3 linked regions of the Homo sapiens genome follow. The protein of the gene in region 1 purifies or fractionates together with the protein of each later gene. This does not show direct contact. Each region holds a gene or a part of one and is shown on either strand. Other genes may lie near its edges.

The links.
Region 2: the proteins of PCDH1 (region 1) and DCAF4 purify together in Homo sapiens (co-immunoprecipitation; one large-scale study listed by IntAct). This does not show direct contact.
Region 3: the proteins of PCDH1 (region 1) and ZNFX1 purify together in Homo sapiens (affinity purification with mass spectrometry; one large-scale study listed by BioGRID and IntAct). This does not show direct contact.

Annotation. Positions count from the first base shown.
Region 1 is NC_000005.10:141,868,303-141,871,953, reverse strand, and holds part of PCDH1 (protocadherin-1 isoform 2 precursor), read left to right. Parts: intron 1-2,326; exon of another isoform or gene 2,327-2,349; coding exon of another isoform or gene 2,350-2,437; intron 2,438-2,522; coding exon 2,523-3,385; intron 3,386-3,475; exon of another isoform or gene 3,476-3,651. UniProt on the Homo sapiens protein: May be involved in cell-cell interaction processes and in cell adhesion.
Region 2 is NC_000014.9:72,929,380-72,933,030, forward strand, and holds part of DCAF4 (DDB1- and CUL4-associated factor 4), read left to right. Parts: intron 1-185; exon of another isoform or gene 186-377; coding exon of another isoform or gene 378-441; exon of another isoform or gene 442-585; intron 586-3,651. UniProt on the Homo sapiens protein: May function as a substrate receptor for CUL4-DDB1 E3 ubiquitin-protein ligase complex.
Region 3 is NC_000020.11:49,253,948-49,257,598, reverse strand, and holds part of ZNFX1 (NFX1-type zinc finger-containing protein 1), read left to right. Parts: coding exon 1-182; intron 183-1,651; coding exon 1,652-1,791; intron 1,792-2,949; coding exon 2,950-3,104; intron 3,105-3,651.

The sequences.
Region 1 (3,651 bases):
ATTTGCTGAGAGTCTACTATGTGCCCTAAACAGAGAAGACTTACATTTTACCCCAGGAAGTTCTTAGTGGTGTAGGGGAATCGGGTAAGTGAGCAAGTAAAAGAGCAGTGGTCACACAGCAAGTACCAGGAAAGGCTAAGCCTAGAGAGCAAAATAACAACAGTCATTCAAGAGCTGCCAAGTGCCCACTGTGTGCCAGGTCCAGGGCTAAGCCCTGAGGAGGTAGGAGCAAACAAAGTAGAAACTCTCCTGCTTTCTGCTCACCATCTTGGAGCAAAGACAGACAATTAACACATTTTCCAAACAGGTACACAACTACAATTGTGCTAAATGCTTTGAAGGAGTCCTTTGTTGAGTACCCACATTTAGCCCACAGTATCTCAAACACCCTAGGAAATAGGTAGTATTATCCCCATTTTACAGGTAAGGAAACTGAGGCACTAAATCTTTGCTTCAGGTCATGCAGCCAGGAAGTGAGCAGCTGGGTTTGCCTCAGACTGTCTAATGCCACAACCCTCGCTCTTCTCCACCCTGCTGCCTTACATTCGCCAAATGGTATACAGAAGCAACCAAACAAAATGGACAAATAGTCATTGAGTTAGAAGCACTGTCATGGCAGATTGGACCAGTCTTGTTTACTTCTGCATCCCAGTGCCCAGGACAGAGCCTGGCATATTGTAAATGCCCAATAAACATTTGTTGAATGCATGACTGAGTCCCTACAGTGTACCCAGATGTGCAAAGGTGCATTGTTAGGGGGCAGGGGATGAGTGAGTGTACAGAGTACTGTCCCTTCCTTCGTAGTGCTTTGTGTTTGCCTGGAAAGGCAGAGAACTCAGGAATAGGTGCACAATACTGAAGCTGAACAACACAGGCGGGCGGTGTCCCAGTCAGCCCCATGATTCATTGCCTTGGGATTGGAGCAGACAATAAGTGGCTGTGAGTTGGAGGAAGGAGAGGTCACCGTGGGCAGGAGAGGACTGTGAAGGTTTCCTGGAGGGCCAGAGCCTGCCCTCAGTGGGATTGATGTGGGGTGGGTGTTCCAGGTGTGGGGAAGGTATTCCAGGTAAAAGTGAGGAAGTGGGGAAAGGAGACTGAACCAGAAGCCTCCAAAGAAACTGCTGATCCAAAGATTTTGGATTTGAATAAAGGAGGGACTGGCCATGATTTTGTTGGAGAGGAGGGGGCATTCAAGACAGAGACAGTAGCTGGGTCTAGCTGGGATCTGCAAATGCACGACCTCAAAGCCAGGGGAGATGGGCAGAAGAAGGGGGTTATTGTTGTGATGGGGTACAGCTTGTGGTTGACTAGGGCAGAGGTTGGGAGAGGCAAGTGTGAAGTAGGGGCTGGATATACGGAGATGGATGTCAAATAAGAGCCAGATGTTCATCCAGAGACCAGAGGGTGTGGGGTGGGGGAGTGGCCAGGGAAAGGCTGCTGGTGTCATTATCATCGGCAGCTCTGTCCCAGTTAGACCTGCTGGGCTCCCTGTTGCTAAGGACAGGCCAGGGCAGCTCCCAATGCCAATTCCAGGGCTAGTCAGCCCTGACCACAGTTCTGACCCCAATCTTGACCTGTGTTCCCTTGTACGCACCTGCCCATGGCAGCAGGAGGGAGAGGAGAGGAGCCCTAGCAACTGTGCATGTTCCTGTGTGCATGCTCTGGGGCATGTGTGCATGCTCTGGGGCATGTGTGCACGCTCTGTGGCCTGTGTGCACGTTCTGGGGCATATGTGTTGGGGGAAAGTCGGGAAGGCTAACACCTACTCCTCAACCCTAACCATTTTCACAAGCCTTGCCCAATTCAAGCTGGCCTTTTATGGGGGTGGAGAATACTGGGCACCGTGGGTGATTGTCAGAAAAAGAGGATTTGAGATGTCATACCTCATGCATATGCACTGACTTGGCATCTCAGAACAAAGAGAAATGAGACATCATCCCCTCTCCCTCCAGCCAACCTTAATGGAGCCCAGTGTGACAAGTCAAGGTCCCAGGGTCTGGGGTGTGTAAGGACGTACTTGTGTCTCTTTCCTACCATGCATGTGGGGAGGGGTGCTCCAGTTGGGGATGCTCGAGGTCTCACCCTTCCACTGGCTCTCTCTCCCTATCTCAGTATCAAGGTAATTACCATCGGTGACTAAGGCAGGATGCTCGTGAGAAGGAGGTGTTGGGTGAAGCACAGAGCAGAGAGCAAGGAGGAAAAGAAGGAAAGAGGGCGGGCAGCCGGGCTTGGGCCCAGGGAGCGTCAGGTGGGTGAGGGTGTTCCATGGGCGGGAGCTGCTCTAGGCATGCCAGGCCTCTTACTGGCTCCTCCAGCTGGGGCAGACACTGCTGCTACACCCAGCTGTGGATGAGATTCAGGGATCTGAGTTTCTGGAATCGGGGTTCTGTGCTGGGACTGACTGCTCTTGTGGAGAATCGTGTGTCAGTGGGAGAGGGTGAGTATGGGGCCAGCTCTGGGCAGCTCAGGGCCAGGCTTTTCTTCCCAGCTCATGGCCTCTGTTTTGCCTCTTCCCCTTGCAGCCCTCCTGATTCTGGGGCCTCCCAGGATGGAGCACCTGAGGCACAGCCCAGGCCCTGGGGGGCAACGGCTACTGCTGCCCTCCATGCTGCTAGCACTGCTGCTCCTGCTGGCTCCATCCCCAGGCCACGCCACTCGGGTAGTGTACAAGGTGCCGGAGGAACAGCCACCCAACACCCTCATTGGGAGCCTCGCAGCCGACTATGGTTTTCCAGATGTGGGGCACCTGTACAAGCTAGAGGTGGGTGCCCCGTACCTTCGCGTGGATGGCAAGACAGGTGACATTTTCACCACCGAGACCTCCATCGACCGTGAGGGGCTCCGTGAATGCCAGAACCAGCTCCCTGGTGATCCCTGCATCCTGGAGTTTGAGGTATCTATCACAGACCTCGTGCAGAATGGCAGCCCCCGGCTGCTAGAGGGCCAGATAGAAGTACAAGACATCAATGACAACACACCCAACTTCGCCTCACCAGTCATCACTCTGGCCATCCCTGAGAACACCAACATCGGCTCACTCTTCCCCATCCCGCTGGCTTCAGACCGTGATGCTGGTCCCAACGGTGTGGCATCCTATGAGCTGCAGGCTGGGCCTGAGGCCCAGGAGCTATTTGGGCTGCAGGTGGCAGAGGACCAGGAGGAGAAGCAACCACAGCTCATTGTGATGGGCAACCTGGACCGTGAGCGCTGGGACTCCTATGACCTCACCATCAAGGTGCAGGATGGCGGCAGCCCCCCACGCGCCAGCAGTGCCCTGCTGCGTGTCACCGTGCTTGACACCAATGACAACGCCCCCAAGTTTGAGCGGCCCTCCTATGAGGCCGAACTATCTGAGAATAGCCCCATAGGCCACTCGGTCATCCAGGTGAGAGGCCCCCTCCGTATAACTGTCAGGGTGACCCACCACTAGAAATGGGAGCCCACCCAACCAGGTGAGAGTTCCCTTCACTTAGGGGAAAAACTGCCAGAATACTGTAGTGAGACCCCTTCTCCCCAAACTCAGCCAGGGGAGTCTTTCCCACCCCACCCCAGCAGGTGATATTACTTTCCTCTATCAGGCTACTTAGGTGACAGTGAAATAGCATATGAACAGTTTCCCGTGACCCCTAAGGCAGACTCAAGCTGGGGGAA
Region 2 (3,651 bases), on another chromosome or scaffold:
TGGGCACATACTGGCTCTCTGTGTTAAATCTCAGATTTGCTGCCGCGCGTGGTGGCTCACGCCTGTCATCCCAACGCTGCGCCAAGGCAGGAGGATCGCTGGAGGCCAGAAATTCGAGACCAGCCTGGGCGGCAACAAAGCGAGACCCCGTCTCTACAAAAATATTTTTTATTTTTATTTTATTTTTCCGTCAAGCTGTTCTTTATTTCAGGAAGAGGGCAGGGGAGGGGGCTCAGTCTTTCTTGGCAGCGGCTTTCCTCATGGCAGCCAGTACCTTGCTCAGCTCCTCCCGCTTCCTCTTGGCACGGATGTGCGTCCCCACCCTTTTCTTGATGAACTTGAGGGCCCATTTCTCCTTGAAGACCTTCAGTGACTCCATGGCGCGCAGCTCGTACGAAGCGAAGCCACACACCTCCCGGATCATGTCCCGCTACAAACTTGGTGCGTTTGCTCAGACGCCCGCGGCGGCGGCTGTGCCTGGGCTTGCTCACGTTCTTGGTCACCTTGTGGCCCTTGTTGAGGCCCACGGCCATAAGGTAGCGCAGAGCCATGGCTGCTGCTCTCCATGGCGGCCGTGGCGGAAGGCCAAAAATATTTTTTAAATTAGCCTGGTGTTGTGGCTCGTGCCTGTAATTCCGGCTACTCCGAGGTTGAGGCAGGAGGACGGCTTGAGCCGGGGAGATGGAGGTTGCCGGGAGCGGAGATCGCGCCACTGCACTTCAGCCAAAAGGGGGGTAGGAGGGAATAAGTAAATAAAATTAAATAAATAAAGTGGTATCTCACTGTGGTTTTGATTTGCATCTACCTAAGGACTAATGATGTTGGGTATCTTTTCATGTGCCAGTTGGCTATTTGTGTAGCTTTTTCTTTTTTTTTTTTGAGACGGAGTTTTTTTTGTTTGTTTTTGAGACGGAGTTTCGCTCTTGTCGCCCAGGCTGCAATGCAGTGGCACCATCTCGGCTCACTGCAGCCTCCACCTCCCGGGTTCAAGCGATTGTTCTGGCTCAGCCTCCCAAATAGCTGGGACCACAGGCGCCCGCCACCACACCGAGCTGATTTTTGTATTTTTAGTAGAGACGGGGCTTCGCCATGTTTATCAGGCTGGGCTTGAACTGCTGTCCTCAAGTGATCCGCCAGTCCCAGCCTCCCAAAGTGCTGGGATTACAGGCGTGAGCCACTGTGTCCGGCCCTAAATAATGTCTTTCGATGCACGGAAGTTTTCAATTTTGATGAAGCCCAATTTATGTGTGTATGTGTGTGTGTATATATATATATGTAGTGTGTGTGAGTTTTGGGTGTCATATTTGAGAAATCATTGCCTAATCAAGATCATGATGATTTATACCTTTGTTTCCTTCAAAGAGTTTTATAGTTTTAGATCGAGATCCATTTTGGTTCATTTTTGTCCCATATGGTATGAAGTAAGGATCCAAATTCATTCTTTTGCAGTTTGATATTCAAATGTCCCAGCAGTTGAAAAGACACTTCTTTCTTTCATTGAATGGTCTTGGCACCTAGATGAAAACCAGTTGACCATAGATAGGCATATGGGTTTATTTCTGGTCTCAATGCTACTCCATTGATCTATATTTCTATCCATATGCCAGTAACACAGTGTCTTGATTACTGTAGCTGTGTAATGAATTTTGAAATTGCGAGGTGCGAGTCATCCCAACTTTGTTCTTTTTCAAGATGATTTTGGGTATTCTGGGTCCCTTGCATAATATGAATTTAGGATCTGCTTTTCCATTGCTAAAAAAATGGCATTTGGAATTTTGATAGGGATTGCATTCAATCTGTAATTTCTTTCAACAGTGTTTTATAGTTTTCTGTGTACACGCCATATATTAATTTTGTTAAATATATTCCTAAGTACTTTTTCTCTTTTTTTTTTTTTTTTTTGTAACTGAGCCTGAGCAGGACCAGAGGAGTGCTTTATTCTTTTTGATGCCATTGTAAATGTAACTTTTCTTTCATATTCAGGCTGTTCATTGCCTGAACCAGTGTATAGAAATACAACTGGTTTTTCTATATTGATCTTGTATCCTGCAACCTTGCTGAATTCATTTGTGAGGTCCAGTAGATTTTTGGTGGATTCTTTAGGATTTTCTGTATATAAGATCATGTTTGGTTGCCTTTTCTTTGTCTTGCCTAATTGCCTGTCTAAAACTTCCACTACAATGTTGAACAGATGTATTGAGAACCAACATCTTTGTCTTATTCCTGACCATAGAGGGAAAACTTTGTCTTTGGCCACTAAGTATGATGTTAGGTGTGGGTATTTTGTAGATGCTCCTTATCAGGTTGAGGAAACTACCTTCTGTTTCTAGTATGTTGAATGTTTTTTTAATCATGAGAGGATGTTGCATTTTGTCCAGTGCTTTTTCTGTGTATCAATTGAGAAAATCATGTGAGGTTTTCCCCATCTATTAGTATGGTATATTGATTGATTTTCATATGTTGAACCAACCTTATATTTCTGAGATAAATCGCGCTTGGTCTTGGTATATAATTCTTTTTATATGCTCCTGGATTTTGCTTGCTAGCATTTTGTTAAGGATTTTTGTGTCTCTGTATTCATAACCCATACTGACCTATATTTTTCCTTCTTTTTTTTTTTTTTTTGAGAGATGGAGTCTTGCTCTGTTGCCCAGGCGGGAGTGCAGTGGCATGATCTCGGCTCACTGCAACCTCTGCCTCCCAGGTTCAAGCGATTCTCCTGCCTCAGCTTCCCAAGTAGCTGAGACTACAGGTGTGCACCACCACGCCTAACTAATTTTTTGTATTTTGGTAGAGATGAGGTTTCACTCTATGTTGGCCAGGCTGGTCTTGAACTCCTGACCTCAGGCGATCTGCCTGCCTTGGCCTCCCAAAGTGCTGGGCTTACAGGCGTGAGCCACTGCACCCGGCCTTGACCTATATTTTTCTTCCTATATCTTTGTCTGATTTTGGTAACAAGGTAATACTGGCCTTATAAAATGATTCGGAAAAATGTAGTAAATATCTTGGAATCATTTTTGTAGGAGCAGTTCCCAGAAGGAAGGCATGTACATTTGTAAGTTACTTGATAAATATTTTCCAGTCATTTTCCAAAAAACCAAATTGTGTTTATTTGTGATTAACATTGCCTTTGCAGAATAGTAGTCTCTTAGAAATTATAATTCTTAATGCCTTGAGGTACTTAAAAGTTTCTCTGAAAGACAAAGGCAAGCCCAACCTTCTGCAACACACCTGATTTTAACATCTAGAGCAGCTCCAAAGGTGCTAGATGCAGCATGTTACCAGCAAATTGTTTTCGAGTGCTTCCTACATAGAACAGGTTTTCTCAGCTTTAGCACTGTTTTGGGCCAGGTAACTCTTTTGTTGTTGTTTTTGAGATGGAGTCTTGCTATGTTGCCCACACTGGTCTCAAACTCTGGACTCAAGCCATCCTCCCACCTCAGCCTCCCAAGCAGTTGGAACTGCAAGTGTGAGCCATCACACCCAGCTGAATAATTTTTTTTTCTTTCTTTCTTTCTTTCTTTTTTTTAATGTTGTTTGTTTGAGACGGGATCTTGCTATGTTGCGCAGGCTGGTCTTGAACTCCTAGGCTCAAGCAATCCTCCTGCCTCGGCTTCCCGAGCAGCTGGGATTATAGGCATCAGCCACTGC
Region 3 (3,651 bases), on another chromosome or scaffold:
AAGCTGACCTGATTCAAGCAGACCGGGTGATTGAGGAGGAAGAGGTGGTGAGGCCCCAGCGGCGGAAGAAGGAAGAGAGTGGAGCAGACCAGGAGTTGGCTAAAATGCTTCTGGCCATGAGGCTAGACCATTGTGGCACTGGGACAGCAGCTGGACAGGAGCAAGCCACAGGAGAGTGGCAGGTAAACTCACTTCCTTGGGTTGAAACAGGCCTGAGAGTGTTCTGACCGCTTGTTTTCCCCCACTTCTGATACAGTATATTCACTTCACCATTACAATTAGCTAAGTACCTGTATTACAGCCTACCCCTGGTATGAGATGGCTTTAGTGATTCCCAAGGATATAAATACGATGGTTCTTCAGAGGGCCTCTGGCAAGAAATGCCAACTTAGAAAGACAGGAAGCAGGTAGCCAAGTGCTTCTGTAGAACTTGTGGAAGAATGTAGCACATATGAGTCAGGTCAAACACGGTCTCAGTACTTAATGCCTTCAGGAGTGTTGTTTTCTCTATTTCAAATGAGTTTGTGAACATGTACTAAGATTTTAGAGGATTAAAGTAAGCAATGAAGCGAGACCTCCAGGCTGGATGGAATATTCCTCCTTCATTCAGCCTGGAATTTGACACTTCTCTTAAAGCCAGAATTGTATGAATGCCCAGGTGTCTTCATGTAGCCTTCCCTCTGCTCCTTTTGGTGGAGCCTAGTAGTCCTCACTGTTTACCATGCATAACTATGATGATCGAGGATTAGATATTCAAAATAAGAATTTGTAAACCTTACCAATGATTTGAGAACTTTCAAGGGCAACTTTGGATGCAGTTTTCATCTGAGTGCTGGCTTTGCACCTGATCTAGTTCAGTTCAGTATCACTATATGTGGTGAGCGGAGTCATGATCTCAATTCTTAGAAGCACAGATTCAGCATCTCTCCCAGGAGGCATCAGGAAAGGTTGATTTGTTTCATTTTGAAGCAGCGGGAAGATCTTTATTTAGTGACATCTGTCTGACTTGCGAGCCTTCTAAAGGCTCATAGCCTCAGACTCAGTGACGGCCAGAAGAGAGCACTTTCTCATAAACAGTGCTTTCCACCACTTGTTAAAGGTACTGTGTTGATACGATGGCAGTAGGACCGTTTTAGCAGGCACTGTGCCAAGTCCTGTGTGAAGCACCAGTTGCTAGGCACTGGTTGTACAGCATTCAACAAGAAAGTACCACCCCCATGACTTTCATGGCATGCATTTTAGGAACAAGAAACAGGCTATGGTCAAAGATGTTTAATGATAACTAGTGCTAGTACTAGTATAAATGCTTTCCACGTATTTACTCCTGACAAGCCAACAATCCTATAAAGAGATACCATTATTATTCCCATTTTATAGAAGGTGATACTGAGGGACACAGAGGTTAGGTCATTTACCTTACTAGGTCCCACAACCTAGTAAGAGGTAGAGTAGGGCTTTGAAGCCAGGCAAACTGGCTCCAGAGTCCTTGTTTAGCCACTCTACAGTGGAAGAGCTGTTGGGAGAATGTAAGACACTTGACATTAATCAGTGATGCCAGCCCTTTTTCTTACGTGCTGTGACCCCTGCCTTGGGCTTAAAACCAAGCCTGCCTCTGCTCAGACAGTACCCTGCCTGGTATTGATGTCTGCAGACCCAGCGCAACCAGAAAAAGAAAATGAAAAAAAGAGTGAAGGATGAGCTTCGCAAACTGAACACCATGACTGCAGCCGAGGCCAACGAGATCGAGGATGTTTGGCAGCTGGACCTCAGTTCTCGCTGGCAGCTTTATAGGTACTGTGTTCCACATCTAGCCAACCCATGTAGGGAGTTCCTCTTCTGTTCCTAGAACATTCTCCACCTCCAAGACCTTCAACGATGTTAACTAATTATTGATTGAGCACCACCACTGAGCTGAGTGATAGGGATACAGCCATGGGATAGAATAGACACTTTGCTCTACTTTCATGGAGCTTATAGAGTCTATCCAGGGTAACAAATTAATTATTACCTTCGTGGAGCCTATGGAGTCTATCCAGGGTAACAAATTAATCACGTAATTCCACAAATAAAAAGTTACAAATGGGTATAAAAACTCAGAAAAGAACAGAGAGGTAACAGGCACAATGACTCACACCTGTAATCTCACCACTTTGGGAGGCTGAGGCTAGAGGATCTCTTGAGGCCCAGGGTTCAAGACCAGCCTGGGCAACATAGTGAGACCTCATCTCTACAGGAAAAAAAAAAAAGAGTAGGAGAGGCCGGGCGCAGTAGCTCACGCCTTTAATGCTAGCACTTCGGGAGGCCGAGACAGGCGGATCACAAGGTCAGGAGATTGAGACCATCCTGGCTAACACAGTGAAACCCCGTCTCTACTAAAAACACAAAAAATTAGCTGGGCGTGGTGGCCGGTGCCTATAATCCCAGCTACTCGGGAGGCTGAGGCAGGAGAATCGCTTGAACCCGGAGGTGGAGGTTGTAGTGAGCCAAGATCACGCCATTGCACTCCAGCCTGGGTGACAGAGCAAGACTCCGTCTTTTAAAAAAAAAAAAAAAAAAGTAGTAGAAAGCCGTTGGAAAGTTTTACAGCGATTAGTGACATCATCAGTTTTACTAATAAAATAAATACTCTATGGAGAATTAGAGGAGGGGAGGGAAATTAGGCAGGGATGCTGCAGCTGGGAGAATTCTTCCCAAAGTTTTTAAAGTCTCTTATTTTCTTCCCATAGTTAACCTTTGTTCTTTATCTCACCCCTTTCCTTAGCTCCTGACTACTCTGCACATCTTTTTGTTGGGCATTTTGGATTCTTAGGTCCCTGAATGTATCTCTCTGTTTGTCACTATGCTCCAAGGGTCCAAGGTTCACTTCATACACTGGGCACACTGAAGGGCGTTCTTCCACCTTCTCAAAGAGCATGTGGCTTTCTTTCCTTGGTTCTTCCCATTCTCCAGGCTCTGGCTACAGTTGTACCAGGCTGACACCCGCCGGAAGATCCTCAGCTATGAACGCCAGTACCGCACATCAGCAGAAAGAATGGCCGAGCTGAGACTCCAGGAAGACCTGCACATTCTTAAAGATGCCCAGGTTGTAGGAATGACAACCACAGGTAAGAAACTGTGGAGAAATTTGCCTGTTGCATCTAAGTTCACTTCTGGTGCCAGATTATCTAAGGACAGGTAAAGAGGAGCTTCTTTGGTAGGTTAGAGGAAAATACCATGAAAAGCTACTGAAAGCACCCATATTTTGAGAACTCTTGGTGAAATTCACTCACTTTCGCCAGGCGCAGTGGCTCACGCCTATAATCCCAACACTTTGGGAGGCCAAGGCAGGTGGATCACCTGAGGTCATAAGTTTGCAATCAGCCTGGCCAACATGGTGAAATCTCATCTCTACTAAAAATACAAAAATTAGCTGGGTGTAGTGGTGGGTGCCTGTAATCCTGGCTACTCGGGAGGCTGGGGCACAAGAATCACTTGAACCTGGGAGGTGGAGGTTGCAGTCAGCTGAGATCGCACCACTGCACTCCAGCCTGGGTGACAGAGTGAGACTGTCTCAAAGAAAAAAAAAAAAAGAAAAAAGAAATTCACTCACTTTCTCCTGCTGGGTTTGAAACTCCAACAGTGACCAACACAGTTTTAATGTTCTGGAGACCA